Linked DNA regions of Homo sapiens: all the other regions are reported to be linked to region 2. Evidence: microRNA targets listed by miRTarBase, many of them from high-throughput screens and not tested one by one. Region 2 holds a microRNA gene; each other region holds the end of a gene's coding sequence.
What was found. Region 2 holds the annotated microRNA hsa-miR-1304-3p (UCUCACUGUAGCCUCGAACCCC, at 5,128-5,149, shown strand). A microRNA usually pairs through its seed, bases 2 to 8, with sites in the 3' UTR of a target mRNA and lowers its output. Matches are read on the target gene's strand: a 7mer-m8 pairs with bases 2 to 8, a 7mer-A1 pairs with bases 2 to 7 and ends in A, and an 8mer does both.

Region 1: miRTarBase lists GJA9 as a target of hsa-miR-1304-3p. The part of its 3' UTR that is shown has no 7-base or 8-base seed match.
Region 3: miRTarBase lists UBE2G2 as a target of hsa-miR-1304-3p. Seed matches in the 3' UTR shown: 7mer-m8 at 5,320-5,326, 7mer-m8 at 4,283-4,289 and 7mer-A1 at 4,239-4,245.
Region 4: the mRNA of DSG3 is a reported target of hsa-miR-1304-3p. Seed matches in the 3' UTR shown: 7mer-m8 at 1,323-1,329 and 7mer-m8 at 1,771-1,777.

The regions. Positions count from the first base shown.
Region 1 is chr1:38,868,104-38,875,222 of GRCh38, forward strand. GJA9 (gap junction protein alpha 9) reads right to left here. Exons shown (of 2, transcript NM_030772.5): 2 at 5,966-7,119. The coding sequence ends at 6,448. It overlaps MYCBP (MYC binding protein), which reads right to left and starts at 5,245. Exons shown (of 5, transcript NM_012333.5): 1 at 5,188-5,245; 2 at 4,915-4,987. The coding sequence starts at 5,202. All of the region lies in intron 1 of RRAGC-DT (RRAGC divergent transcript), which reads left to right. All of the region lies in intron 1 of GJA9-MYCBP (GJA9-MYCBP readthrough), which reads right to left. RefSeq lists an enhancer at 4,279-4,801.
Region 2 is chr11:93,731,721-93,738,839 of GRCh38, reverse strand. MIR1304 (microRNA 1304) reads left to right here and starts at 5,076; the gene lies at 5,076-5,166. TAF1D (TATA-box binding protein associated factor, RNA polymerase I subunit D) reads left to right here. Exons shown (of 6, transcript NM_024116.4): 3 at 341-731; 4 at 1,601-1,776; 5 at 2,089-2,146; 6 at 2,536-3,273. The coding sequence ends at 2,679. It overlaps SNORA1 (small nucleolar RNA, H/ACA box 1), which reads left to right and starts at 6,707; the gene lies at 6,707-6,836. SNORA8 (small nucleolar RNA, H/ACA box 8) reads left to right here and starts at 6,341; the gene lies at 6,341-6,479. It also overlaps SNORD5, SNORA18 and SNORA40. RefSeq lists an enhancer at 1-922.
Region 3 is chr21:44,765,170-44,772,288 of GRCh38, forward strand. It overlaps UBE2G2 (ubiquitin conjugating enzyme E2 G2), which reads right to left. Exons shown (of 6, transcript NM_003343.6): 6 at 3,411-6,320. The coding sequence ends at 6,208. Among named protein-coding and RNA genes, the nearest start is that of UBE2G2, 33 kb to the right of the region's middle. RefSeq lists enhancers at 487-1,250, 1,251-2,014, 3,856-4,356 and a silencer at 3,265-3,559.
Region 4 is chr18:31,475,577-31,482,695 of GRCh38, forward strand. DSG3 (desmoglein 3) reads left to right here. Exons shown (of 16, transcript NM_001944.3): 16 at 70-3,126. The coding sequence ends at 684. Among named protein-coding and RNA genes, the nearest start is that of DSG2, 19 kb to the right of the region's middle.

The DNA of each region.
Region 1 (7,119 bases), not on the chromosome of region 2:
AGTTTAAAGGAAGGGAGTGACAGGATCCACTCTTAACTGCTATGTGGACCAGCTGGAGTGGGACAAGGATAAAGACAGGAAGAACAGTTAAAAGGCTGATGTGGTAATCCAGTTTAAAAAGACAGCAACCTGCAGTAGAGTGATGGGAGTGAGAGAACAGTGAGAAGAAAGAAATTCGAGAATTTAGGAAAGAATCAACAGGACTATGGTAATTACCGGAAGAAGCTCTGAATTCAAAAATGGTCTTAAAAATTAAGTTTGTTTTGCTAAATAACCACCAACCAAAAACTTTACCAGTAGTCAACATGCTCAAATCAACATTAAAATAAGATATACTTGAGTGGTTTCATATCTAATCACTCATATGAGCACTGCCTTGCTCTTCATCTATGGAACAAATTCCTCCTAGAATTTACTACTTAGATAAAAAACTCTAAATCAGTGGTTGGCCTTTTTGTGCATGGAACCCTTTGAAAAATCTAATAAAAGCAAAAAAAGTAAACACACACAAAAAAAATGTGGCTGGGCGCAGTGGCTCACACCTGTAATCCCAGCACTTTGGGAGGCCAAGGCGGGCAGATCACGAAGTCAGGAGATCAAGACCATCCTGGCTAACACAGTGAAACCCCGTCTCTACTAAAAAATACAAAAAATGAGCCAGGCGTGGTGGCGGGCGGCTGTAGTCCCAGCTACTCAGGAGGCTGAGGCAGGAGAATGGCGTCAACCCAGGAGGCGGAGCTTGCAGTGAGCCGAGATCGTGCCACTGCACTCCAGCCTGGGCGATGGAGCAAGACTCTGTCTCAAAAACAAAAAAACAAAACAAACAAACAAAAAAACAGTGATAGATATCTAGACCCCAAGTTAAGTCCTGTTGTAAACCAACTTACATACTTCCCTTTTGTTCTTTTAGAGTTTTAATAACTTACCAAAATAATATACAGTATGAAAAAATCACTATTTTTTGAGAAATTCATTTGGTTTTTTTTTTTTGTTTTTTTTTTTGAGATAGAGTTTTGCTCTTGTTGCCCAGGCTGGAGTGCAATGGCATAATCTTGGCTCACCACAACCCCCGCCTCCCAGGTTCAAGCGATTCTCCTGCCTCAGCCTCTCTAGTAGCTGGGATAACAGGCATGTGCCACCATGCCCGGCTAATTTTGTATTTTTAGTAGAGACGGGGTTTCTCTGTGTTGGTCAGGCTAGTCTCGAACTCCCAGCCTCAGGTGATCCACCCACCTCAGCCTCCCAAAGTTCTGGGATTACAGGTGTGAGCCACCACACCTGGCCAAATCCTCATTTTATAAGACATGAATATTAATACTCTACTCTCTCCTCCTCTTATTCCCCCACCCCATTTCTTTCAGCTTCTCATTTGTCACTGGTACTTGAAAGGTTGATAGTTGCAGAAGATACTGTAAATACAAAGTTTCCTGTGCTGTTCTATAGATGAAATGCACTTCCTTGTAATCAGACAAGAACTCTATACCCAATCATGCTCCCCTTTTTGCCTTCGCAGCCAGGATTTTTAGAGGTTGATATAGCGCTCAAAATAGCTAAAATGCTTCAGCTTCCAAATGATTTATCATCTTTAGCCATCCTTTCATAGTGTTTTAATGTTATAAACTATTTCAAATCATCTTGGAAATAAGCTGTAAAAATTTAGGCCAAAGTGGCTCATTCCTGAAATTCCAGCACTTTGAGAGGCCAAGACAGGAGGATTGCTTGAGCCCAGGAGTTTGAGATCAACCTGGGCAACACCCCAACTCTACAAAAAAAAAAAAAAATTGGCCAGGCATGATGGCTCACGCCTATAATCCCAGCACTTTGGTAGGCCGAGGCAGGCAGATCATGAGGTCAAGAGATTGAGACCATCCTGGCTAACATGGTGAAACCCCGTCTCTACTAAAAATACAAAAAAAATTAGCCGGGCATGGTGGCAGGCACCTGTAGTCCCAGCTACTTGGGAGGCTGAGGCAGGAGAATGGTGTGAACCCGGGAGGCGGAGCTTGCAGTGAGCAGAGATCGCACCACTGCACTCCAGCCTGGGTGACAGAGCAAGACTCCGTCTCAAAAAAAAAAAAAAAAAAAAATTAAAAATCAGCCGGACATGGTGGTGCGTGCCTGTAGTCTCAGCTACTTGGGTGCCTGAGGTGGGAGAATTGCTTGAACCTGGGAGATTAAGACTGCACTGAGACATGACTGCACCACTGCACTCCAGTCTGGGCGACAGAGACCTTGTCTCGAAAAAATATATATATGTAAATTAAATTTGTGAGGCTGGGCACAGTGGGTCACGCCTGTAACGTCAACACTTGGGGAAGCTAAGGCAGAAGGATCACTTGAGGCCAGGCATTCCTGGGTGACAGAGTGAGACTCTGTCTCAAAAAAAATAAAAAGTAAAAACAAATAGAGGCCGGGCGCGGTGGCTCACGCCTGTAATCCCAGCACTTTGGGAGGCCGAGGCGGGTGGATCATGAGGTCAGGAGATCGAGACCATCCTGGCTAACAAGGTGAAACCCCGTCTCTACTAAAAATACAAAAAATTAGCCGGGCGCGGTGGCGGGCGCCTGTAGTCCCAGCTACTCGGGAGGCTGAGGCAGGAGAATGGCGTGAACCCGGGAAGCGGAGCTTGCAGTGAGCCGAGATTGCGCCACTGCAGTCCGCAGTCCGGCCTGGGCGACAGAGCGAGACTCCGTCTCAAAAAAAAAAAAAAAAAAAAAAAAAAAAACAAATAGAATTGTGTAAAGCACCTATGTTTGGAGCTGAAAATCAAATTTTTAATAAATCACATCAATACTGTGTTGGCTGATGTTATTTAGGAGCCTGGAAATCTAAGGAGATTGAGAGGTTAAATTCTAGTGGAGGGCGGTGGCTCACACCTGTAATCCCAGCACTCTGCGGGGCTGAGGTGAGCGGATCACCTGAGGTAAGGAGTTCAAGACCAGCCTGGCCCATGTGGTGAAACCGCCTCTCTACTAAAAATACAAAAAATTAGCTAAGCATGGTGGCACATGCCTGTAATCCCAGCTACTTGGAAGGCTGAGGCAACACAATCGCTTGAACCCGGAGGTGGAGGTTGCAGTGAGCCGAGATCATGCCGCTGCACTCCAGCCTGGGCAACATCTTCTGTGTAGTCAGTTACCGCCTACAACTGTCATTTTTCTGCCTTTTACCATTCAGTCTTTCACTTGCTCCATCCAACCACTCTGGCCTCCTTAGACTTCCTGAAACTCTGTTTCTTTCAGGTTTCTGGTCAAAAATTACTTCTTAAGAAAGGCCTTCCCCCCATCACCCTATATAAAATGACACACACATCCCACCTGTCACTTTTTTTTTTTTTTTTTTTTGGAGACAGAGTGTCACTGTTGCCCAGTGGCACAATCACAACTCACTGCAGCCTTGACCTCCTGGGCTCAGGTGATTCTCTCACCTCAGCCTCCACAGTAGCTAGATTACAGGCACACACCATGCCCAGCAATTTTTTTTTTTTTTTAAGAGATGGGAGTTTTGCCATGTTGCCCAGGCTGGTCTTGAGCTCCTGGCCTCTAGCAGTCCACCCACCTCAGCCTCCCAAAGTGCTGAGATTACAGGCATGAGCCACGTGCCTGGCCTCACCTGTTACTCTTTATCCCTAACTTTGCTGTATTTTTATCTGTACCACTTACCACTAGCTGACACTACATATTTATTTATGTATTTCTCTCCCTCAACTAGGATATAAGCTTATGAGAGCCGAGACTTTTATCCTCCCCTGCTTATCTCCAGTGTGCAGAACAGACACCTGAGTAAAATTATTAAATGAAAGAAATGAACGTAAGGAGTTTTTAGACGGAATGACATTCAAAGCATCTGTGACACTTTCAGAGACAACATAGCACAGTACTTTCACAGAGTAGTCCCTTAAGACTTGCTGAAGTTTATTTGCAAAGAGGTAAACTATTATCTGAACCCCAAATAGGTAGCAATTCAAAATTACTAGCCTTCTTTCTTCTAAGACCCAGGAGTTATGCTCCTAGAATTTTCCTCTAAACTTTGCTTCTGTCCAAAGGGCAGTTACCAATTTATTTCCCACTTCCCAAACTTCCTAGTTTCATATGACCCAAGTCCTCATCCCTGCGAACAATTCCATTCTACACCCTTGAATATCCCAGTGAGTTGAGTGACACATAGCAGGCATTCAAATTAGTGCTAAGCCAATAAAGTAAACTGTACCCTACCCCTTGAAATCCTCCTGTTTCCAACACTTTACTCATCTACTTAACTTAGATCTTGAAGCCACGAATGAAGAGATACAGCGTTAACAGTAAGCTTTCATTTTAAAAAGTGAAAACAATGTAACCACCTTGATATGCCCTCGAGCTCTTTAAGCTGTAATTCTACTTTATGAAATATACACAAAATAAGAATTGACACAGACAGACTAAGGAATGGGGGCTGAAAAGCCACAGCCAAATTCGCTATGAATCTCCTACTTTGGGGATTAGGCTCACTCAGCTACTTCATAGCCCACTTGGAAATTCGGTCATTTTTCCAGTTGCTCTTTGTTGGAGGGAAACTTTCTTAACAAGATTCTGAGGACTCCATAAAAACCGTAAGGTGGGAGGAATTGGGATCTGAAGGTCCTTGGCAAACATGTCCACTGCGGCTGCTGGAGGCAAAGCAACGGAAGTTGAAGAGACTTTGCAACAGCTGCAAGAGTTTCACTCCCGGTGCGGAGAAGGGTAGCGGAGCTAGGCTACCCCACCCGGGCGGCGTCCAGCAGCCAGGTCCCTGCTGAACCCCGAGGCCCACCTCGCTGGACCCCGGACGGGCCCCATCTGTTTCCCCTCCTTCCCCACGCTACGGCCCGCTGGGGAACGGGGCAGCGCCGGGGAGCACGACGAGGGCACGAGGTACCCTCTCCTAGCCCAGGCTCACCCTTGGTCAGCGTGTCCAGCACCCCCGACTTCTCCAAGTACCTCCGGAACTGCTCACGCTTCGAGTCGGCGGCCTGAAGAGACACCGGGGGTCAGTGGCCAGAGCCCGGGAGCCGAGCAGGAAGAAGGCGCTGGGAGTCCGGCAACCCCGCCTCCGCCTCACTACCTCGGGGCCCTCCCGCCCAAACCTGCGCGCGCGACCCCACTCCCACCCAGAGCCGACCAGCGGCTTGCTACCGCCCGCATGCCCCCAGCCACGCCGCGCCCCCCTCACTTTGTAATGGGCCATAGTGACAGCGGCAGCGGCGTAGCTGGCGCCGGAGACCGCGACTGGCGGGTTGGGAGCAGCACTGCTCATGCGCGGAAGGGGGCGCGCGCCTGCGCACTTGCAAACCACCGGCCGGGATCGCCGAGGTGTGGCCTGTTTTCATGGCGACCAGGACGCTCTGCATCCCCAGTAGCAGGCTGAGCCGAGGGAGGCTGCGTATGCCCGCCCCTCTGGCTGTCGGAGCCGCACCTCTTCCTCTTCCGGCCCCCGTAGCAATTAGGTTTCTTTGCAGGAGGTGAGATTTTGGTACCTCTGTCCTGGCGTCCGGAGGCAGGGCCCGGGAGCATTGAGACTATTGCGAGAGAAAGGACCGCCGCACGGTGGTAGCGAGCGCATCTTTTTCATCTGGGACCTCGGAAACTGTGGTGACCCATAGGTGCTGGGCTTCTTGGCTCTCGTCCTGAGAAAGTGCTCACAGTGCTTTGCAGTAGCCGAGGAGGGTGTTTAGAATCATATATTTTGGCTTCAGCTTTTATCTTTGGAGTCTCCTTGAGTCGTGGCTGACTTGATGTGGGCCTCTGGAGGATGAGCAGTAACGAGCTTGCAGTAGCTTTTGAGCCAGGCACTGTAGAAAACACGGGTATTTTAAATTTTAATCCTTACAACACCCCTGTAGGGTGGGTATTGTTAATTAAGTGGAGTGGTTAGATGTCCAGTGAGTAGAGTCGAGTCCAATCCGGGCAATGAATCACGATGCTATGAACTGGTGAAGGAAAGCCACGGATCTTCTTAAGATTTTATTTACTAGGTAGCAACATGTGATTATACTCAAGACACATCAGGATGCCAGTCTAGAAGGAAACTTACGTGATTGTGTTCCAGGGGCAAACAGAATTAACCCAGTGTCCAAGGTGGAATTGTATAGATCAAGAACCATTTCCTAAGGCTGTGGTCTCTTCAAAGAGAAAACCTGATCAAACCATTTAGCCTCAATTCTGAACATGTGATTTTCCCAAAATCAGTTACATTCGAAAGGATATCATTTAAAAAAAAAAAAATCCTGATTTGACAACTCTATGTCTTTGAATTTAGAAGTGTTGCTTCACAATCTCGAATTAGAGCTGTTTTTCTCTTGCTTAAATGAGTTTGCAGTTGTCTGTCTTAACAGCTGGTCTTTAGAGCTGCCCCTATCTATTTTTTCTGTGCCCCACGACCACTAGGCTACTTCTCTGATAATATATATAATGTCTAAAAGCCAACCGCTGTTTAGATCTGAAGATCTGTGGGAACCCGCCTACCAATGAGATTGTTCGTTAGGGACACTACGTGATTTGGAGGACAAACAGGATTATTACAGGTTCTGACCAACCCTGGCTCAAAGGACAGCCCTCCCAAAGAATCAGCAGTGTTTGGAATGTCAAGTGATTGAGAATCTCCTTGTGAAGGAGGAAGGGTTCTGACTGTGCCCTTTCTGAACTGGCCCTTGAGGTTACCTTTAGGAGGTGACCCCCGGTTTTCATGTTCTGTAGAGGAACCCCATGTAGCTCTAAGCCACCGCGGTTTCCAATCGCAGTTAGCTGGCAAGGAGAAAACTGTTTGGGGTGACTGCCTCATGTTGTTCTCTCCATCTATAGCAACACCTGGAATAGAACGGTGACCTCTAGAGTAGTAGTTCCTTTTGCTGTCTTTGCCTTCAGTTTCTCTTTTTTCCATTAACTGGTTACCATTAAGTTCTTTTCCAAATATTTTATGAGTGTCTTTGTTATTGTTTGAACTGATGTGTTGAAAATGACTACAACTAGTACTAAGTGTGGAAATCTCATTAGAAAGTACAGTTTCCTGTTCATCCAAAATGCATTTCTCATCATTTACACTATGATTGTCAGGATTTGGCTGGAATACAGAAGATGAATTTAAACTAGGGTACACTGCAGTGTG
Region 2 (7,119 bases):
GTCCTAGCTAGCTACTTGGGAGGCTGAGGCAGGAGCATCCCTGGAGTTTCCAGGAGTTTGAGGTTGCAGTGAGCTGTGATTGCACCACTGCACTCCAGTCTGGGTGACAGCAAGACGATGTCTACAAAACTCTTTAATAAGAGCTGTAGCATTATGGGCTATTTAAATAGGATGATCAGTAGAAAGGCTAGCTGGTTCTGAGCCCATCCTTTAAAAAATTTTTAATTCTGGGCATGTTTTCTGAGTTGGTCTTGGAAGAAATGTACATTTAGGACTGGGTATTAATGGTAATAAGCAGTAAGAAAAGAAGATGAAATTAATTTTTTTCCCATTTTTCTAGTGATAACTCTTCTGATAGCAGCTTATTTAAAACTCAGTGTATCCCTTACTCACCTAAAGGGGAGAAAAGAAACCCCATTCGAAAATTTGTTCGTACACCTGAAAGTGTTCACGCAAGTGATTCATCAAGTGACTCATCTTTTGAACCAATACCATTGACTATAAAAGCTATTTTTGAAAGATTCAAGAACAGGAAAAAGAGATATAAAAAAAAGAAAAAGAGGAGGTACCAGCCAACAGGAAGACCACGGGGAAGACCAGAAGGAAGGAGAAATCCTATATACTCACTAATAGATAAGAAGAAACAATTTAGAAGCAGAGGATCTGGCTTCCCATTTTTAGAATCAGAGAATGAAAAAAACGCACCTTGGAGAAAAATTTTAACGTTTGAGGTGAGTCAGCATTTTACATACATGGCTACACATAACTCAAGATGCCCAAAATGATTTGTTGGCCAATTTAGAATTGTCTCAGATATACTGGGAACAGACTGTCTGCAATTTTGATACTCTTCTATACTGACTTACCCCTAAAGTCCACCCTATCCTTCAACTGAATCTTGACTTGTATCTCTTAATATAACTACACTTTGCCATATTTAAAAGATAGTGCTCCAAGGCTCTTTGTATAAAATCCTTTGATCTTATCCCATCTCAGGTCTTTAAACACAACCCTAAAACTCAGTGGGGATAATAAAAGCTCACATAACTTGAAATTACTTTTGCAGTAACCTAAACTAAAACCACACATGCCTTATGTTCAGTGGATATATTCTTAAGGCCTAGATGTTTCTAAGCCAATTATCTGAAAAATACGCTAATACTTAGGAGTAGACTTTTTTAAATATTTGAGAGTTGTATGTTGAATGAATTCAGAATTAATTTATGATCCCTTGCCAGAACCTGAAATTTTATTTGGGAGGATTAATACATGTTAATCTCTTCAGTTAATCTCTTAAGTTTAAGGTGATTATAGTAAACATTAGAAATCTTATTCCTGTTTTTACATTTTAAAATGCCTTTAGTAAGTCCCAGACATGACAAGATATGTACTTCACTTTTCCATGTTACCAGCTTAGGTAAATTCATAATTGTAATGTGAATTTTAATAATCAGCATTTGATAAGTCCACAAGTGGGGAGTAGTTAAGATAGCAAATTCAGAGTCTTTGCTAAGGGGGGGCATTGCCCTTTTTGAACATAGGCACCTGCTGGGTCTTAAAAATAAAATCTCGACATACTTATGGTGTTTTTAATATATAGCAAGCTGTTGCAAGAGGATTTTTTAACTATATTGAAAAACTGAAGTATGAACACCACCTGAAAGAATCATTGAAGCAAATGAATGTTGGTGAAGATTTAGAAAATGAAGATTTTGACAGTCGTAGATACAAATTTTTGGATGATGATGGATCCATTTCTCCTATTGAGGAGTCAACGTAAGTGGAATCATATGAAATACTTTGGTAATAGGTTATAAATTAAATTTCTATGTTAATTGCTTCATATTTTGCCTTTAATATAGTTATACTTAAATAATGAACAAAGATACAGAGTATGACAATTGGGATTATTACAGTTGAGCCAAGCTTGGCACACCGTTCATCTAGAATTCTCCAGAACACAAAATTCTCAAATTTTGTGTTTCCTTTGACTAGTATTGCAGTTTCAGTTATATTTCAGAGTGGAATATACAACTAATTAGGTCATCGAAGATTCTGTCATCTCGATGATAAATTTTAATATTACAGAGCAGAGGATGAGGATGCAACACATCTTGAAGATAACGAATGTGATATCAAATTGGCAGTAAGTGACTTATTTTTTTCCTATTCCATTTTGGGAAGGCAGGAGTTGGTTGATACAGAAGGAATTATATTTAGTTTTTCTCTTACACTTCATTTAACTTTTGAAAAGCTCTATAAGTTTACTGCAGGAAATGCAAGAAGGAAAATAATTTTTTAGAGACTTGATAAAGAACATGGGGTTTTCAGTACTATTTTTAATAAGTAGCATTCTGATACATATTATTGCTAGTTAGGATGTCAAATGAAAAAATAAGCAATGTTAATTTGGATTTTTAACATCTACATGTAGTCTCTAGGTTATCTGAAGTAATCCAGGGCATTCAGCTATATGTAATTACTAAACTATTTGAGTTATTGCTTAATCCATGATTTTTTGTTTGTTTTATGCAGGGGGATAGTTTCATAGTAAGTTCTGAATTCCCTGTAAGACTGAGTGTATACTTAGAAGAAGAGGATATTACTGAAGAAGCTGCTTTGTCTAAAAAGAGAGCTACAAAAGCCAAAAATACTGGACAGAGAGGCCTGAAAATGTGACAGGATCATGAATGTCAAAGGTGAAGCATATAGAAAAAACGACTTCATAGAAATGAATAAAGATAAATGTGGATATATGTACCAGTCTGGTGGTGAAGAAATTCTGAAACCCAGAACTTTATAACAAGAAAAAAAATTTTTAACCCTGTGAAGAAGTTTGTGAAAGAAACTTGTGAAGTAGTAATAATTAGAAAAAAAACCATTAAAACACCAGAGAAAATACATAGAAAAATTTGAGAAATTGTCATTTGATTTCTGAATAAGAGCTTACAGGTGTCCTGTGAGTATTGAAACAATGAAATGTAGTGATTTTAATTTTGAAAAGAAAATCTTAAAGTAACTTGACACCCAACCATCTTGAAGAGGGGATTTGAAATGCTGTAATTTTATCCCAGCTTTGTTCAGCCATGACAAGTGACCTGTCAGATGCTTAGTATTGTAATAACCTCATTTCCCTTTCCAAATTTAGAGTATCTTTAATACTATTTTTTTTAGACAGAGTCTCGATCTGTCACCCAGGCTGTAGTGCAATGGCCGCAGTCTTGGCTTACTGCAACCTCCATCTCCCGGGTTCAAGCGATTCTGCCTCAGCCTCCTTAGTAGCTGGGATTACAGGCGTTAGCCAGCACACCCAGCTAGTTTTTGTTTTTTTAGTAGAGACAGGCTTTCACCATGGTCTCGAACTCCTGACCTCAGGCGATCCGCCTGCCTTGGCCTCCCAAAATGCTGGGATTATAGGTGTGAGCCATGGCACCTGGCCTAATACTACTTTTAACTACCATTTTCACTTTTTATTAGTTCAAGAAAAGGCATACACATTTATTCAACATGTATACCTGGGGAGAACCAGTCATTACCCCGATGTTCATTATTTTGATCACCACGATAGAGCTGACTACTCTGCTATGTAGTGCATTTTGGGACTGCACTTATGTATGTTTTTGTTTAACGTGGACAAAGACTTACAGATAGGTGCAAAAAATAAATCCTCTTTTGCAACCCAGAACTCATTGTTCAGTATGAGTTTTGATACATATAAGAAGGGATATTATGATACCTGAGACAGTTGATTGATGGGAGTATTGATAGCCATAAAGGTTGGTTCCAGGCCAGGTGCAATGGGTCAAGCCTGCAATCCCCACACCAAGGTGGGAGTATTGCTTGAAACCAGGAGTTCAAGACCAGCCTAGGCAAGAAAGTAAGAAACACATCTCCACAAAAATTTAAAAATTAGCTGGGTACTGGGGCATGTGCCTGTAGTTGGAGTTACTCAGAAAGGGGGGAGGCTGAGGCAGAGTTGGAGGCTGCACTGAGCTTTGATGGCACCACTGTACTCCAGCCTGAGTAACAAAGACAGACCCTGTCTCTTAAGAAAAAAAGGTTGATTCCAGGCCTGTAGAATAGATAAACAGCATGGGATATGAGGGAAATCCTCAGCAGTATTAATTTTGCATTCCAATTTCATGTTGATGATATACACAATGGCTTTTTGTTTTAAAGGCTTTTATCTTGAGAACATGGTGTCTGGAGTTAAAGGTATGTCTCAATTTGAGTTTTCACATCATATTTGTTTATGTGTAGGAAACAGTATGTTGTCAGAGCAAGTTTCATTTTATTCAGGGACATTTCTACCATGCTTTTAATTCCCATTTATACTGATTTCTGAAAAGAAGAATCCTAGATTCACACATTTTATAGTGATGTGTCAGATTCATTTTAGTTGCAAGCATTAGAGGGTCCTGAATTTGTTAGTTTGTAGCAATAATCAGAACTTTGGATTTCCTACTTGAAGCCTACAGCATTATTTTGAATTAATGCACAATCTAAAATGAGGCAGAGGATTTTATGGTTTAATGCAAAATATAGTATAATAAAAGATGATTACACAGGTCATAAGAATTCATAAATTTGAATGATGTAGAGTTTGATTAAAAGTTATATAATGCCAAAGTCGTAACTTACAGGCACATTATATTCCTGTATTTTATAATGGATGACAATTAATTTTGAGCCAAGAATTAAAATTTGCTGAAATCTTCGAATTGGGAAAACAACATCCTCTGTTGCAATACTGAAGTTCATAACAACAGTTAGACTTTAAACTTAAATCTTAAGTTTAAATCTTTTTCCTTTGGTTCATGTAAAGGAGCTACTTGATGTTACTTTTTATTTATCATTCCTCTGGCTCCTAAGCACAACGTGATTGTGAAATTATTGTTTTTGTGATTAACGTAGTAGGAAGTTTCTGCAGTTGGCAATATTGTAAGAGCATATTGCAGTTTCTGCTCATAATTTCTTTCCTATGGAGTGTTAGACTTTGTTATTTATGTGTATAAATACTAGCTGGACACAGTGGTGCCTGTGGTCCCCAGCTACTCTGGAGGCTAAGGCAGGAGAAACACTTGAGCCCAGCGGTTTGAGGCTACAGTGAGATGTGATCCTGCCACATCTCACTGTAGCCTCGAACCCCTGGGCTCAAGTGATTCAGCAAGAATCACACGATTTTTAAAAGACATGGCAGATCCTGTGTCTTTAAAAAAAAATCAAAACCTTGTAAATAGTGGTTGAGGTCTATCCCGATGGGGCTTTTCCTGTAGCCTGCACATCGTTGGAAACGCCTCATAGAGTAACTCTGTGGTTTTACTTTACTCACAGGACTATTGTTAGATCTGTGGGAAGGAATTACAAGACAGTTGCTAAAAGTTTGAAAAAGACGGTTGCTAAACGTTATGAAAAACCAGATAATCTACTTTTTTACCTTAGGTATTGGCATACTCCACACATCTGTACCATTCTTGAGTGATCGCTTAGGTAAGTTTTAATTGGTGACAGTATAATCTTTTGGGAAATAATGATTACAGTTCAGATGATGAATTTAACTGTTCAACTGCTGAATGATAACGGGCATGAACTAAAACTTAATTCTGACAGAGCTGGATATGGCTGTATAATAAACTGGATCTTAAATTTATACTTGGGTTTTAGTTTTAATAACTGGAAATGTATCCTTTCTAAATCTTTAATTGGTACTTTCTATAGGAATGAATGTGATTTGAACTCATTCATGTTGAGAGGTAAGTAAAATATTTAACTTATAATAATCAAGGACTCAAAAGATGAAAAATAGAAATTACACCATCCCAGTATTTCAGGTATAACACAGAATTAGTAAGATACTGGCAAAAATATTACAATGTATATATTTGTATAGAGAAGGAAAATGAAGAGACTGCATGTCTATACCTACCAAACGAAACTACCTGTGTTCTTTGCATCATTATTCAACTGGCAGTTACACATATTTCATCCTAAAGTCACGTAAACCTGTGTGGATATGTTGAATCAATAGGGATATGAATTACATAAAAAGAATTTTGTGTAACTGGCAGTTTGAGCAACAATGAGCTTGACGTTTGTTGTCTGATCTGTTAAGTTACATGTATATATTCCATCTTTAAGTTTTATAGAGAGACTGGGCAAAGATTAGGCAAAGACTAGAGTTGTAGCTTAAAATGTAGTTAATGTAGCTTCCTTATTACAGTGACAATTAGGAAAAAAGCTCAAATTATTGTACTTGTTAAAGGAATTTGAGAGGTTTGTGAAAGCATTTCTCAGCAATATTGCAAATTTGGGAATACGAGTTGTACAGTTCAGTCATAATTGCACTGCATGGTATCTGCACTCAGCAGTTTACACCTGCTAGGGTGTTCAAAGGTCAGTGCTATAGAAATTCAGTATCTGGCATCGTTGGTTTTCTTGGCTTTGTGCTTGTTAAACCTGGTATTTCTACTGATACAGTATTTGTGTAGGTTTCTCAGAGTGTTCAGTTTGATATACTCTAAAATAGTAAGCAATGCTTTTTTTTCCAGGGTGTCAAATTGAGAACCAGGTAGATCCCCACCACCTACAGTAAAAAGGTAAGATTCTCTGTTTCTATTGATTCTGCTTGTTTCCCTCTATCAGTAGCACTGCCAGCATAACAAGAACTTCGTACAAATACACTACTAAGCTTTAAAGACTTTTACAATGCCTCATTCTAGAGAATGGGCACTGTTGATCATGGTGTCCAAAAATAGTTAATGTGGCTAAATTGAGACAGGTTATGCTTCCATCACAGTATGCATATTGCAGTGGTGACAATGAGACCTGTAACATTTTGCTATGTTTATGAGTAAAAATGTAGGAGAAAAATGTTGACTTTTCAATATTAGAAATAACATTTAATAAGGAATTTTCAGCTCTTATAGGACCACTTTTTTTATGTGCTGTATATTGACTGAAACATTGTAATGTGGTATACATTACTGTGTCTTGGATCAGGTGTCAAAATGTAACTGTACTTTGTACAATTCAACTTCTAGGACCCTAAAGTAAATTGGTTGAAGAAATTAGATCCCAAAGATTCTTGGTAAGTTAATTCATTACTTAAAAGGCCATGCA
Region 3 (7,119 bases), not on the chromosome of region 2:
GAAAACAAAGACCTAGACAGCTTCCCTCGCTAGCCCAGGTCATACAGCTGCTGGGGTCTGAGGAAGGCCAAGCCCCAGCAGGCTGGCCAGAGCCACCTTCAGCTGCCAGGCCCACAGCTCACCCACAGCCACTGACCAGGCAGCAGTGGGGATGCCCCACGTCAGCCTCTGCCCACAGGGCAGGACCACAGAACACATCCTGCCCTCCCTCCGACCCCCCCGCCACCCCACGCCAACTCTGCCCATGCCTATTTGGCAAGCCCCAGACAACACTCCTGGCAATGCCAGGAGCAGCTTTCAGGTCTGTGGTCCCCACACAAAGGCACCCAGCCCCACCCAGTCACACGACAGGGTGCCACTGCAAAGCCTAAACCGGAGATAGGGCCCTGCATCATCTCCCGACCACAGAGATGGGGCTGAATGCTCTGTACTTACACACCTGAAAAACCAGTTCCTTTCACTTTGCCATCCTAGCCTCTCATGAAATTGTACTCAAAAAAGAAAGCCACAGGATGCGTTCTTGTTATCCCTATGACAAGCAACTTAGAGCAACAGCACTGCCAGCTACCAGGCTGGCCGATCTTCACCCCAGCCCCCGGGGGGTTCTGATAAGGATGTAGGGGAGTGAGTCACCTGACCAGTGCACCACCCAGCTGGGGGCAGGGCCGCAGGGCCACACTTGTGGGAGGCAGACAACATGCATGGCCACTGCAGGGGGAGGAAAATCTGGAGTCTGGAGCAGAAGGAAAGTGGCTGGGGTGTCCAGAGCACTTCCCCACTGAGCTGGTGGACAGAGGAACTTCCAGGCATGTAAGGGAGGGTGCTGAGGGCCGGGCCCTGGTGTCTCCTGGCCCCGAGTGGAAGGTGAGGCTTTGCCAAGTGCAGCAGGTGGGCTAATAAGCCTGATGGTGGGGGGACTGAGAGGACCAGACCAGGGTGCGAGAAGAGACATGAGGTGGCTGTGTCGCAAAGGCCAGCACCTGAAGCGGGGGAAGGTGGAGCAGTGGAGGCTGCCCAGCAGGCCCCTGGGTCTAGGTGGACACTGCATAGGAGGGTGCAGTGGGCCTCATGCCACCAACCGCACCCCATGGAGGCAGAGGGGCCACAGTCCTGGAGGGTGGGGGGCCTTGCAGATTCAGCGATGCATCGGGGCACGGCGAGGACCATTTCTTGGCTGGGGCTTTGGCAAATGACCTCACCTCCCCCACCTCAACTCCTCAGAGCACGCCCTCGGACATCTCATGGCTGGGTTCACAGCCTTCAGAGGGGAAGATGCCCGGACGTGTGAGGACTTGCCCACTTCTGGTGTCAGAGCTCGGGCCCTGGAGGTCAGGTTCCACACAGCCAGCAGCGCTCACAGTCCAGGCATGGGAACGGGGGCACAGGAGGGGCACAAAGGTGGAGAGCCCCATCTCCCTGACGCTCCTATGGGATCCCCGAACCAGTACGCCCACCCAGCAGAGGGCAGGGCTGGGACATTCAACGGGGTGAGGCCAAGGGCAGGGGTTACAGATGTTCACCAGGGGATGACGAAGGGCATGGGCCAGCTGCCTCGGGGGCACCAGACCTGCCTCGGGGTACCAGACAGTTGGCACTGCCCAGTGGGTGGGTTCGGTGGGTGTTGAGGCCTGGAAGGTGTGTCTGGGATGGTGAGGGGGTACAGGCTATGGCTGGCTGAGTGGTGCCGGGGTTTGGGGGAGGAAGCTGGTGTTTCCTGCCTCTGCAGGGAGGTTCACCTTGCTTTGTCCCCTCAACAAAGCCAGGCTCTCGTGACAACGGGTCACAACCTGGACAGATCTGAGGAGCTGAACACCTCCAGCTTCCACAGGGCTCAGCCAGGACCTGGGCCCAACAGCATTCCCTCCCAGATGGGGCCACCACGCCACATCAGCACGACGAGACCTCCTCCCAGGGTGCCCCCCCCAGCCCAGGGTCCAGGCCCCAGGCCAACACCCAGAGGGGCTGGCTTTGTTCACAGCCCCTCTCCAAACCCTGCCCCCACCCCAAGCGGCCCCGCGGTCCCCTCCAGGGCAGGGTTTCCAGAATCCACCTGTCCTTAGTGTGTTCACTGCCCCTTGGCAGCCCCGAATTTTTGTACCTGTTTCCTGTCCCCTCCTTGTGTCCAGGTAGCATCCCCAGGGCCCTCGCCTCCAGCACAAATTCCAGCCTGCAGAAACCTTGTCAGCTCAGGGGGCCACGGTGCAAGGCACGCCCAGGGGAGGGAAGCTGGGGCTGCCCTGGGGTGCCTTTCTGTGCAGCTGGAGCAGTTCCATATCCTATGAAGAAACTGGTACAGAACAGCACTCCTCTGAAAAATTAGCAACCTCATCTACACAGAGACTGGACTGGAGAAGCCCCAGCAGGTGCAGCAATCCCAGAAGTGAGAGTCAGAGCTGTGGACGCCACCCTTGCTGTGGCCCAAGCAGTGAACTGGGGCCGCTAACCCCCAGGAAGGGTGAAAAGCCCCAACACCCAGAAGATGAGACCCTAGAGCTTCCCTGGCCACCCCAGCAGCCCTCCCCATCCCAGGAAGCAGACAGTTGCATGGGAAAAGCAAGGACGGCACTCAGCCAGACAGGCAAACAACTGTGGCAAACCAGTGCCAGCAGACAAAACCCAGAAACACAGAGCAAATGAAATGGTAAAAATCACTGTCAACCCCCAAGGTTATCTGCGCAGAAAGGGTCCATACAGTGGGGACGGCCGTCCTGAGGCCCGCTGGCCGGGCTGGCCCTTGGCTGGCGTCTGGGAACTGGGATTTCCGAGGGGCTCCCTGAACCCCGCCTCACTGGGCCTGTGCTATTTGTACAAGGTGGTTTAGGCAGAACACTCACATCCCTGCTGAGAGTCTGGAATTGTAGCGCAGCCCAGGCAGAAGCTGCTCACGTGACCAGCCCCCGGGTACATCACCAGGCAGGGCATCCCCAACATCGCACACGCAGAGTCCCAGCTGCTTGCAGGGGAGTGAGGCGCATCCTGCGTGACCCCCACCCCAGGAGAGGCCTCCAAAGCTGAGCATGGTGCCCCTGGACTCGGCCCCAGGAACCTTTCCCTTGGCCGATTTTGCTCAGTGTCCTCCCTGTGGGAAATCACAGCCGTGACTACCGTGACCTGCATGGCCTCTGTCCTCCTGGAGAATCGCCGCCCTGGGTGGTCTTGGGGACCCCAACTCAGTATCACATTAGAGTTCTTACCCATTAAAAAGAATGCTTAGTGAGAACACTGGGCAAAGGGCAGAACAGACATGCCTGGGGGCCTGTGCTGAGGCACTCGCCCAGTGCACCCCACCAGGAGCAGCCTGGGAACCAGCCCAGGGAACGAGGCGCCAGCACCTGGGGAAGCCTGGGGACCCTGCCTCACAGGATTACAAAGGAAAGCTGACCGCCAACTACCAAAACAGAAACAGCAAATCACTGACACAGGAATCTGCCTCTTTATTGACATGCTAAGTAACAAGACGCAGAGGCAGGTCTCATCGCAACCAACCGTGACCACAGAGGACCACAGAGGAGTGATGACAGGGAGCTGTGCTTCTAAGCAACTGCAGGAGGGAAGCGCAGTCGGAACAGCCTGCTGGCTTCTAGTGGTCAAATGTGCCACTCACACAATGGCATCTGCTGAAAAAGCTGCAAAATGTCATTTATAGGTTAGTGAACACATCCGTCTCACAGACCCCAACTAACCTGAGAATTCCAGAGGAAGACCACAGAATGACAGAAGGGAGATCAGAAACAGAAGAAAACATGCCAGAGCTAACCCAAGTCTGCAGAAAAGCCCCCACCGTGAGGAATCCCAGCTGGGATGATCTGGTGTGCTCCCTGGGGGCAGTGGCCACAGGCTCCTCTGACAATACGACAAAGGGACACACACTGCAGGGCAGGGAAAACACAGAACTTTATTTCAACAGTCATTAGGTTCCACCACACAACAGGGACACCATGGGATTGTTTTTTCATTTAATAAATACAAATGAATAAAAATACTTTATTTTGTCAAGAGACTGCCTCTCCTCCCTCTCCCGATCTCACAGAAGCCTCCAGGCAATTGTGTGCCCCTCCAGGGCCTGCACCCACAGACCCCGTCTACTTGCACAAATGACTCTTCTTTACAGAGAGGGCTCCATCTCATTTGCCTGCAAATACAACATAGGTATAATACCGCTCCTTTCCCCCATCTCCTTCCAAATACGAGTTCTTGCCCTGCGTTCCATTTTTTTTTTTTTTTTTTTTGAGACAGAGTCTCACTCTGTTGCCCAGGCTGGAGTGCAGTGGCGTGATCTCAGCTCACTGCAAGCTCCGCCTCCTGGGTTCACGCCATTCTCCTGCCTCAGTCTTCAGAGTAGCTGGGACTACAGGCGCCCGCCACCACGCCCGGCTAATTTTTTGTATTTTTAGTGGAGACAGGGTTTCACTGTTAGCCAGGATGGTCGCGATCTCCTGACCTCATGATCCGCCCGCCTCAGTCTCCCAAAGTGCTGGGATTGCAGGCGTGAGCCACAGCACCCAGCCTCCAAATTTTAAATGAGCCCCTTGTGAGAAGGAAAAGAATCTGCTGTCCACAGAAGCCAGGCGTGGAGCTACTTCAACCAGAAACTGTCACCCATGACACTCTGTGTGGGTTCAGTCACACAGACCACGATCCATTATGGAAGGGAGGGAGAAAAGGATCACATCAAATCTACTGTATGCCTCATAGACCATCCCTTATTTCAAAAATAGAAATTCCTATTTAAATGCCGCCCGTGTGCGACAGGCCTGATATTTGCTTCTGCATGTGGCAGATCTGTTATTGCTTACACTGTGGCCTCCTGGCCTGTGCTGCTCAGCTGGCCCTGTTAGAGAACATGGGAACCACATCAAAATCCTAAGTCACAAAACAAGGGCTCTGTCCCCAGCCTGGGCCCAGGGGCCCACATGCCCACCTCCACAGCCCAGTCAAGTGTGGGGATAAGGCACTCCTCTGTGCTCTGAGCTAAGATATGGTAGAGTCCCTTCTGAATTTTGAGTTGCAAAGAATGATTTTGTGCTAATAAATTCCCAGTGCATCCAAAATGTACAAAAACCCTAGAATTTCCAGTTTTTAGATTGAAAAAAAAAAATTTTTTCTGTAGATCCAGAAGAAACTTTCATTGAAACTTTAAAGACCTCACCTGCACCTGCTCTAGTAATGCACTAGTTACTAATATACAAACGTAAATCTTTGATGAGTATGGTCGGGAAAAAACTGTCTGTCCTTGTGATCAGCAATAAATTTCTTTTTTCTTTTTGAGACTGAGTCTCGCTCTGTTGCCCAGGCTGGAGTGCAGTGGCGGGACTTCAGCTCACTGCTACCTCTGCCTCCCGGGTTCAAGCGATTCTCCTGCCTCAGCCTCCTGAGTAGCTGAGACTACAGGCGTGCACCACCACGCCCAGCTAATTTTTTGTAATTTTAGCAGACATGGGGTTTCACTGTATTAGCCAGGATGGTCTCAATTTCCTGACCTTGTGATCTACCTGCCTTGGCCTCCCAAAGAGCTGGGATTACAGGCACGAACCACCGCACCTGGCCAATCAGCAATAAATTTCTTTTCTATTTACCCCATTTCTTATTAATTCACACTTCAAAAAAGCATTTCCTGGAAGTATTTCTAAGTGTGATGGTTTGTAATATATAACAAATGAAAAGATGTAATTAGATTATAAGAAAAGCATCTGCCTGTAAAATATGAAGGAAGAAAGGAAGTAATGGACTCCTCATGGGGCCCACAGGGAACCAGGAAGGACCCAGAAAGGGTGCCGGGCCCTTCCCCTGTGCTGCAGCTACAGGGCCCCATTTCTTCAGAAGGAGCGTTCTGGGTATTCCATCGTCCCCTGGAAGTCTGGCAGGTACAACCCCCTCAACACTCCAGGGAGGGAGGGAATCCACAGGAAGCCATGAACTGCTGGTTTCAGCGGGGAGAGGTAGTGCTGACAGCTCTGATAATCTACCTGAAGCCCTTTGTGAGGAATACTGTAAAACTGCAGTAAGCTGTCAATATTCGACATTAAGTCATCATTTCAGAAGAGAAGCCTGTTTGAAGTAGGAAAGGTTTGAAAAAAAAAAAAGATGCCATGGTTCTTGCAAGTCTGCCTTGTTTGGTACCAGCACAGAGCATCACTGTCACTAAGTGTGCCGGGGGAGAATGCTGAGCTGCTTGGCGGTGTGTGCGCGCCTGTGCGAGGCCAGGTCTCACAGTCCCAGAGACTTCTGGACGATCTGCTTGGCAATCTTATAGAACTGCTCCCGGTCATCGCGCCACATTTTGGACGCATCCACGTTAGCTCCACTTTCGTCATTGGGCTCTGAAAGAAAAGGGAACACCCTCCATGTAAAAGGGAGTCTTATACGTAAGCAGCCTGGCAAGGTCTCCCATTTATTTAAAACACTGGCGGGGGCTTTCAAGAGCTGTGTCCCAGAAACAAAGAACCTGAGAACTGCATGGGGTCGGCCCCACCTCTAGAGTGCTGGCCACGCAGGTCTCAACGAAAGCCACTCTCATGACTCCTGCGTTCTGAGTGTCTGAAGACACCAGGACAAGTTGTCATCTGTCTTGCTGTGGAACATGCGACAACCACCTAAGCACAGGCCCACACGGCCTCCCACAGCAGCCTCCTGGGCCACTGCACTTCTGGCACCCGGACAAGCTACACGGGGACCACCTGCTGCTTATTTCACCTTTCTCAAGACACTCTGCAGTGTGGCTTCTCTCTCACAGAGCGCCCTCTCAGCAAAACTGCCCCTCACAGCTCCTACCAAGACAATCCCAAGCAAATGTGCAGCCTAAGGTAGACACCTGACCCCAGGATACCTGACCCACCCCCTAGCCAGCGGCACTGGCAGTCACTGCAGAACTGCAGTTAGGAGGCACGGAGGGAGTAGCCAGGGCCTGCCGGAAGGCAGAACGGAGAGAGACCACCAGAACTGGATGACATGTGCTGAGGCAGCAGCTGTGCAGTGCGGCGGTGGCGCTGCTCAGAATGCACGTGGGGACCGGTTCAGAGCAGAGTTGATGAGGATAAAACCCACAGCTGACATCTGAGGACAGCCTGAGCCACTGCCTCCCTCCCAATCTCCAATCCCCTGGCCTGGCTCCCTCCACTC
Region 4 (7,119 bases), not on the chromosome of region 2:
AAACAGTATTATATTGTTCAACTGACTCTTTCTTAAAATTCATTTTTTCCCACTTTTTCTCTGTCTTAGAAAGCATTTGCCTGTGCGGAGGAAGACGATGGCCAGGAAGCAAATGACTGCTTGTTGATCTATGATAATGAAGGCGCAGATGCCACTGGTTCTCCTGTGGGCTCCGTGGGTTGTTGCAGTTTTATTGCTGATGACCTGGATGACAGCTTCTTGGACTCACTTGGACCCAAATTTAAAAAACTTGCAGAGATAAGCCTTGGTGTTGATGGTGAAGGCAAAGAAGTTCAGCCACCCTCTAAAGACAGCGGTTATGGGATTGAATCCTGTGGCCATCCCATAGAAGTCCAGCAGACAGGATTTGTTAAGTGCCAGACTTTGTCAGGAAGTCAAGGAGCTTCTGCTTTGTCCACCTCTGGGTCTGTCCAGCCAGCTGTTTCCATCCCTGACCCTCTGCAGCATGGTAACTATTTAGTAACGGAGACTTACTCGGCTTCTGGTTCCCTCGTGCAACCTTCCACTGCAGGCTTTGATCCACTTCTCACACAAAATGTGATAGTGACAGAAAGGGTGATCTGTCCCATTTCCAGTGTTCCTGGCAACCTAGCTGGCCCAACGCAGCTACGAGGGTCACATACTATGCTCTGTACAGAGGATCCTTGCTCCCGTCTAATATGACCAGAATGAGCTGGAATACCACACTGACCAAATCTGGATCTTTGGACTAAAGTATTCAAAATAGCATAGCAAAGCTCACTGTATTGGGCTAATAATTTGGCACTTATTAGCTTCTCTCATAAACTGATCACGATTATAAATTAAATGTTTGGGTTCATACCCCAAAAGCAATATGTTGTCACTCCTAATTCTCAAGTACTATTCAAATTGTAGTAAATCTTAAAGTTTTTCAAAACCCTAAAATCATATTCGCCAGGAAATTTTCCTAAACATTCTTAAGCTTCTATTTTTCCCCTGCCAAAGGAAGGTGTTTATCATTTTAAAATGCAATGTGATTTAGTGGATTAAGCAGGAGCGCTGGTTCTTGTCTCCATTGCCTTTTCTTATATCATTGATAATGATGTAAGAATCACAAGGGGCCGGGCGCGGTGGCTCACGCCTGTAATCCCAGCACTTTGGGAGGCCGAGGCAGGTGGATCATGAGGTCAGGAGATCGAGACCATCCTGGCTAACAAGGTGAAACCCCGTCTCTACTAAAAATACAAAAAATTAGCCGGGCGCAGTGGCGGGCGCCTGTAGTCCCAGCTACTCGGGAGGCTGAGGCAGGAGAATGGCATGAACCCGGGAAGCGGAGCTTGCAGTGAGCCGAGATTGCGCCACTGCAGTCCGCAGTCCGGCCTGGGCGACAGAGCGAGACTCCGTCTCAAAAAAAAAAAAAAAAAAAGAATCACAAGGTATTTGCTAAAGCATTTTGAGCTGCTTGGAAAAAGGGAAGTAGTTGCAGTAGAGTTTCTTCCATCTTCTTGGTGCTGGGAAGCCATATATGTGTCTTTTACTCAAGCTAAGGGGTATAAGCTTATGTGTTGAATTTGCTACATCTATATTTCACATATTCTCACAATAAGAGAATTTTGAAATAGAAATATCATAGAACATTTAAGAAAGTTTAGTATAAATAATATTTTGTGTGTTTTAATCCCTTTGAAGGGATCTATCCAAAGAAAATATTTTACACTGAGCTCCTTCCTACACGTCTCAGTAACAGATCCTGTGTTAGTCTTTGAAAATAGCTCATTTTTTAAATGTCAGTGAGTAGATGTAGCATACATATGATGTATAATGACGTGTATTATGTTAACAATGTCTGCAGATTTTGTAGGAATACAAAACATGGCCTTTTTTATAAGCAAAACGGGCCAATGACTAGAATAACACATAGGGCAATCTGTGAATATGTATTATAAGCAGCATTCCAGAAAAGTAGTTGGTGAAATAATTTTCAAGTCAAAAAGGGATATGGAAAGGGAATTATGAGTAACCTCTATTTTTTAAGCCTTGCTTTTAAATTAAACAGCTACAGCCATTTAAGCCTTGAGGATAATAAAGCTTGAGAGTAATAATGTTAGGTTAGCAAAGGTTTAGATGTATCACTTCATGCATGCTACCATGATAGTAATGCAGCTCTTCGAGTCATTTCTGGTCATTCAAGATATTCACCCTTTTGCCCATAGAAAGCACCCTACCTCACCTGCTTACTGACATTGTCTTAGCTGATCACAAGATCATTATCAGCCTCCATTATTCCTTACTGTATATAAAATACAGAGTTTTATATTTTCCTTTCTTCGTTTTTCACCATATTCAAAACCTAAATTTGTTTTTGCAGATGGAATGCAAAGTAATCAAGTGTTTGTGCTTTCACCTAGAAGGGTGTGGTCCTGAAGGAAAGAGGTCCCCTAAATATCCCCCACCCTGGTGCTCCTCCCTCTCCCTGGTACCCTGACTACCAGGAAGTCAGGTGCTAGAGCAGCTGGAGAAGTGCAGGCAGCCTGTGCTTCCACAGATGGGGGTGCTGCTGCAACAAGGCTTTCAATGTGCCCATCTTAGGTGGGAGAAGCTAGATCCTGTGCAGCAGCCTGGTAAGTCCTGAGGAGGTTCCATTGCTCTTCCTGCTGCTGTCCTTTGCTTCTCAACGGTGGCTCGCTCTACAGTCTAGAGCACATGCAGCTAACTTGTGCCTCTGCTTATGCATGAGGGTTAAATTAACAACCATAACCTTCATTTGAAGTTCAAAGGTGTATTCAGGATCCTCAAAGCATTTTAACCTTGCCGCTTAAAACCCAATTTACCGTGAAATGGGAATTTTGCTGCATTGTTAAACTGTAGTGGAAACCATGCTATAGTAATAAAGGTTATATAAGAGAGAAATTGAAATTAAATGTGTTTTTAAATTTCAAAAAAAAATCAATCTTTAGGATGACTTAAAAATTGATTTGCCATGTAAAATGTATCTGCATTTTTTACACAAAACTTGTTTTAAGCATAAAATTTTAAAACTGTACTACTTGATGTATTATACATTTTGAACCATATGTATTAAACCATAAACAGTATAATGTTGTTATAATAAAACAGGCAATAAATTTATAAATAAAAGCTGAACTACTCTCTATATTAATAGTTATTAAGAAATATGATTATAAAACAGCAGTCCCCAACCCTTCTGGCACCAGGAATCACTTTTGTGGAAGACAATTTTTCCACAGACGGCGGCAGGGATGGTTTCAGGATGAAACCGTTCTACCTCAGATCATCAGGCATTAGATTATCATAAGGAGCAGGCAACCTAGATCCCGCATATGCGCAGTTCGCAATAGGGTTCACGCTCCTGTGAGAAACTAATGCCACTGCTGATCAGACAGGAGGCGGAGCTCAAGCTGGATTGCTCACTTGCCCGCAGCTCACCTCCTGCTACGGCCTGGTTCCTAACAGGCCACAGACAGGTACTCTGGGGGGTGGGGGCAGGGTTGGGGACCCCTGATATAAAATGACTCACGTATGTATTTTTATCAGTATTTTAGCTATTTTTTCTAGCTGATTCCTTTTCTGCATCTTCCAGGCAGGAAGGAAGTATGTCAAGATTCGGGATGACTTCAGGTGGACATAGTGCAGGAGAAAGTGCTGGATGAGGTCAGGGCAGAGGGACTTTACTAACTGGATGCTTTAAGTCATTTACTGTTTATTTTGCAAGTTGCAATTGTCTCTCAGGTAACTGAGAGATCACTGTTGTGACATTCAAAAGTTGTGACATTCTAAGATGACTTGGGGAGAAAAGCTGGAGTAAAGAGAAGGTAATGTTTACAATCTAGCCTGATGAAAAATGCGTACCATGTCACTGGTGAAAGCCATCAGCCCCAGAAGTGGAACTGTTTTTCTGTAAATGCTAAAGTCCTTATGTCTCCTTTTAAAAGATGCCACAGAATAAGTCCCTCCAACGCTTCAGAACTTTCTTCTGGCTGACCTTCCTCCTTCTTAAATCTGATCAATGAGGCTTGGACATGGAGTATGGGGAGAAAAAGAAACTGGATTAAAGCAAATATTGAGTAAAGAATGGTAGTTGGCTTAACTCAAATGTTTCAAATCAATTCCAGGAAAATGAAAGTCATGTAGATAAAATCCAAAAATATTACCAGCTTCTTCTATTCATAGAAAGTTCAAGGAACGAAAGTGACAAAATCGGTTTAGTTTTACCTGAGGACCTTCATACGTGAGGTAAGAGTGTGAATGGGACACATTCAACTGACTAGTTTCAATACAACTAACAATTTAGAAACAAGTAAAAGTTAAGAATCCTTCTTGTTCTTGCATTTCCACATTGTCTCGTATCTTCTTCTGGGTCTACAAAGAGGAATACTGAATTAGAGATTATATGGTTTCACAGCGTTCAGTCACATAGTCTGAGATGGTTTTACGTAAAGGGGATAATTGATAAGACAAGAAGATACACAATCATTTAAATTCCAGAAGCCAGAAACCACACGTTTTCCACGATGAACGCTGAGACTCCTCTTGCTTTGCTGTCCAGAGTATGCTGAGATTCCCTCCCTGGCCAAAGACATCAGGCTGTTCTCTGGTTGGTGTCTTTACTTTCTTTTTCTTCCACAGTTTGATTCATTTTTACAAATAAAAAACAAAAAAATTTAGACACAATAGAGATATAGTTAAAACTCAAGAGGGTAATGTCTGAAGAACAAGTACAAATGGATGCGGTTATCAGAGCAAGAAGAAAAGAGACATTGGTGAGGGTTACCACGTGGTCAAGAGAGCTACATACTCTAATTCAATTCTAGAGTAATCCTTAGATTACAGGCATGGAAACAGAGACTCAGAGAAGCAAAATAACTTTCTCAAATTTGCACAATAAGTGACACAGATGTGAAAGTTTATCAATAATTGTCTGGAAATAATAACTATTACTCTCAGAATAATCCGTTCACTTCCAGTCTAAGACTTGAGTAGAACATTAAAAATTAGAAAGAATACAAAGAAAATGAAAATTATAAAAAGGATTACAAATCTAGATGTAATTTTAAAGATTAAATAAGTAGTATAATGTAGGCATATGTGTGTGTGGGAGGGAGAGAGAGAGAGAGTGACAGAGAGAGAGAGAAAGAGAGAGAGAGAATGCTAATACATGATGCTGCTATTTTGAAGTACATGTGGAGGTTTTTCTTTCAGGGGCCAGTGACCAGGTCTCTTCCACAACCAATAACTAATAAGAATGAGCCAAAAGCCTAAATTGCAGAAACAAGTATTTAGCTGAATTTAAATTACAATTTTTGTATTTTAATATAAAATTAAAATGCAATTTTATACAATTATAACTGATGTTGTAAGTACTGAAAAAAACTACCTGGAATCTCTTTCTCAGTCAAGTCCCTAAGAATTACTTTGATAAAGCACTATTTAGAAGAGGTTGTATGAAATGTATCCAGATATGAAATGATTACCTTAAACATGTCCTTCCAGCTCAGTGTTTCCATGATTTGTGGAAAAGAACATATTTTAACAACTACAAATTTTTTACTCCTTGAAATCAGTTTCATTTCTACTTTGATTTTCCTGAGGAACATGGTACGACTATATTTTCAATTTTATGCCTCAGAACATCTCTGATGTTTTCTGTGTGCAGAATTCATCATTACTAAATTAGCAAACAGTGAATTCTATGTGACAACACAGAGAATCAAATGATGATAATATAAGCAAAACATTGATATTGAAACAACGTGTATGTCCTCATTTCCCCAGAAGGCAGAAGAAGTATTTATGTTCTTTCATAATCAAAAGAAGGATTGCAAGGAACTTTCTTGATTATAAAGCTGTAAAGAATCAGGTAATCCTGTATTTATTCAAATGGCATAATGACATGATTTTCAATCCTGCAAGGAGACATTGTTACTAAGTGAAAAATGAGTATTTAAACACAAAATATGAGATTAACTTCAGTCATGTCTTCTCATGTCCAACTGACTTCTACTGATAATAAGATTTATATGGTCCTAACTCAGATGAAACACACACACACCCACATTCTTGCCTCAGGTAACCTCATGGCTTGGCATAGCTAAAGCAGGGTCTTTCCATTATCAAATCTATGGACCAGACACTAATGCTTAGTGGGCGCTGCAGACACAAAGTTTCTGCATTTAAGAATTCTGCTATCTAGCATTATTATTTTAGAAAATAATAATAATCACCTAGATTTTGCACCTAAATTTCTTTAGGTAAGCTATGGTGAAAAAGCCTTATTTAACCAGACTTTTAATTATTTTCAACCACGTCTGACATCCCCAACATTTAATTAGTAAAAAATATGCAATAAATCCTTAGTCTAGTAAGTTCTGACAAAATCTACCTTCCCGCATCCTCCCTCTTTTTCTCAGCTGTTATAAATTGCTATGAATTTTTCCTCAGAACATATTTTGTGGCTGCTATCTGATACCTAAGTTGATTTTCTAACTTGCCACTGTTTCTACATACACTCTCTTGGATCTGGAAATGTTCTCTTTTGTGTTGGTCTTTGAATATTCTTTCAAAGAGGCAAACTTATAATGAAGGCATATGCTACCAAGACAATAACAGACCTCCTACTTTATGCAACAAAGGCTCACCCAGGGCCTCTCAAACAAGCCAATGCATGCTATTGCTACTTTTGCCAACTCTGGCTAGAAAAGGGTATCTCCACTGAAGGAACAAGTCAGGAGATGTTCGTGAATATAGAGAATGAGTTGTCAAGCTAAGAAAACCTATTAAAGTTTGCAAAAAAAAAAAAATCACTACTGAAGGAGCTAAGAGAATTTTTAAAAATCTCATTCCATCTGTTAATCAATCAAAATAACTATATTATATTTTAATGATTAACAAAAGTTAAGGCAGGGCGCGGTGGCTCACGCCTGTAATGCCAGCACTTTGGGAGGCCGAGGCAGGCGGATCACGAGGTCAGGAGATCGAGACCATCCTGGCTAACACGGTGAAACCCTGTCTCTACTAAAAATACAAAAAATTAGCCGGACCTTGTGGCGGGCACCTGTAGTCCCAGCCACTCGGGAGGCTGAGGCAGGAGAATGGCGTGAACCCAGGAGGCAGAGCTTG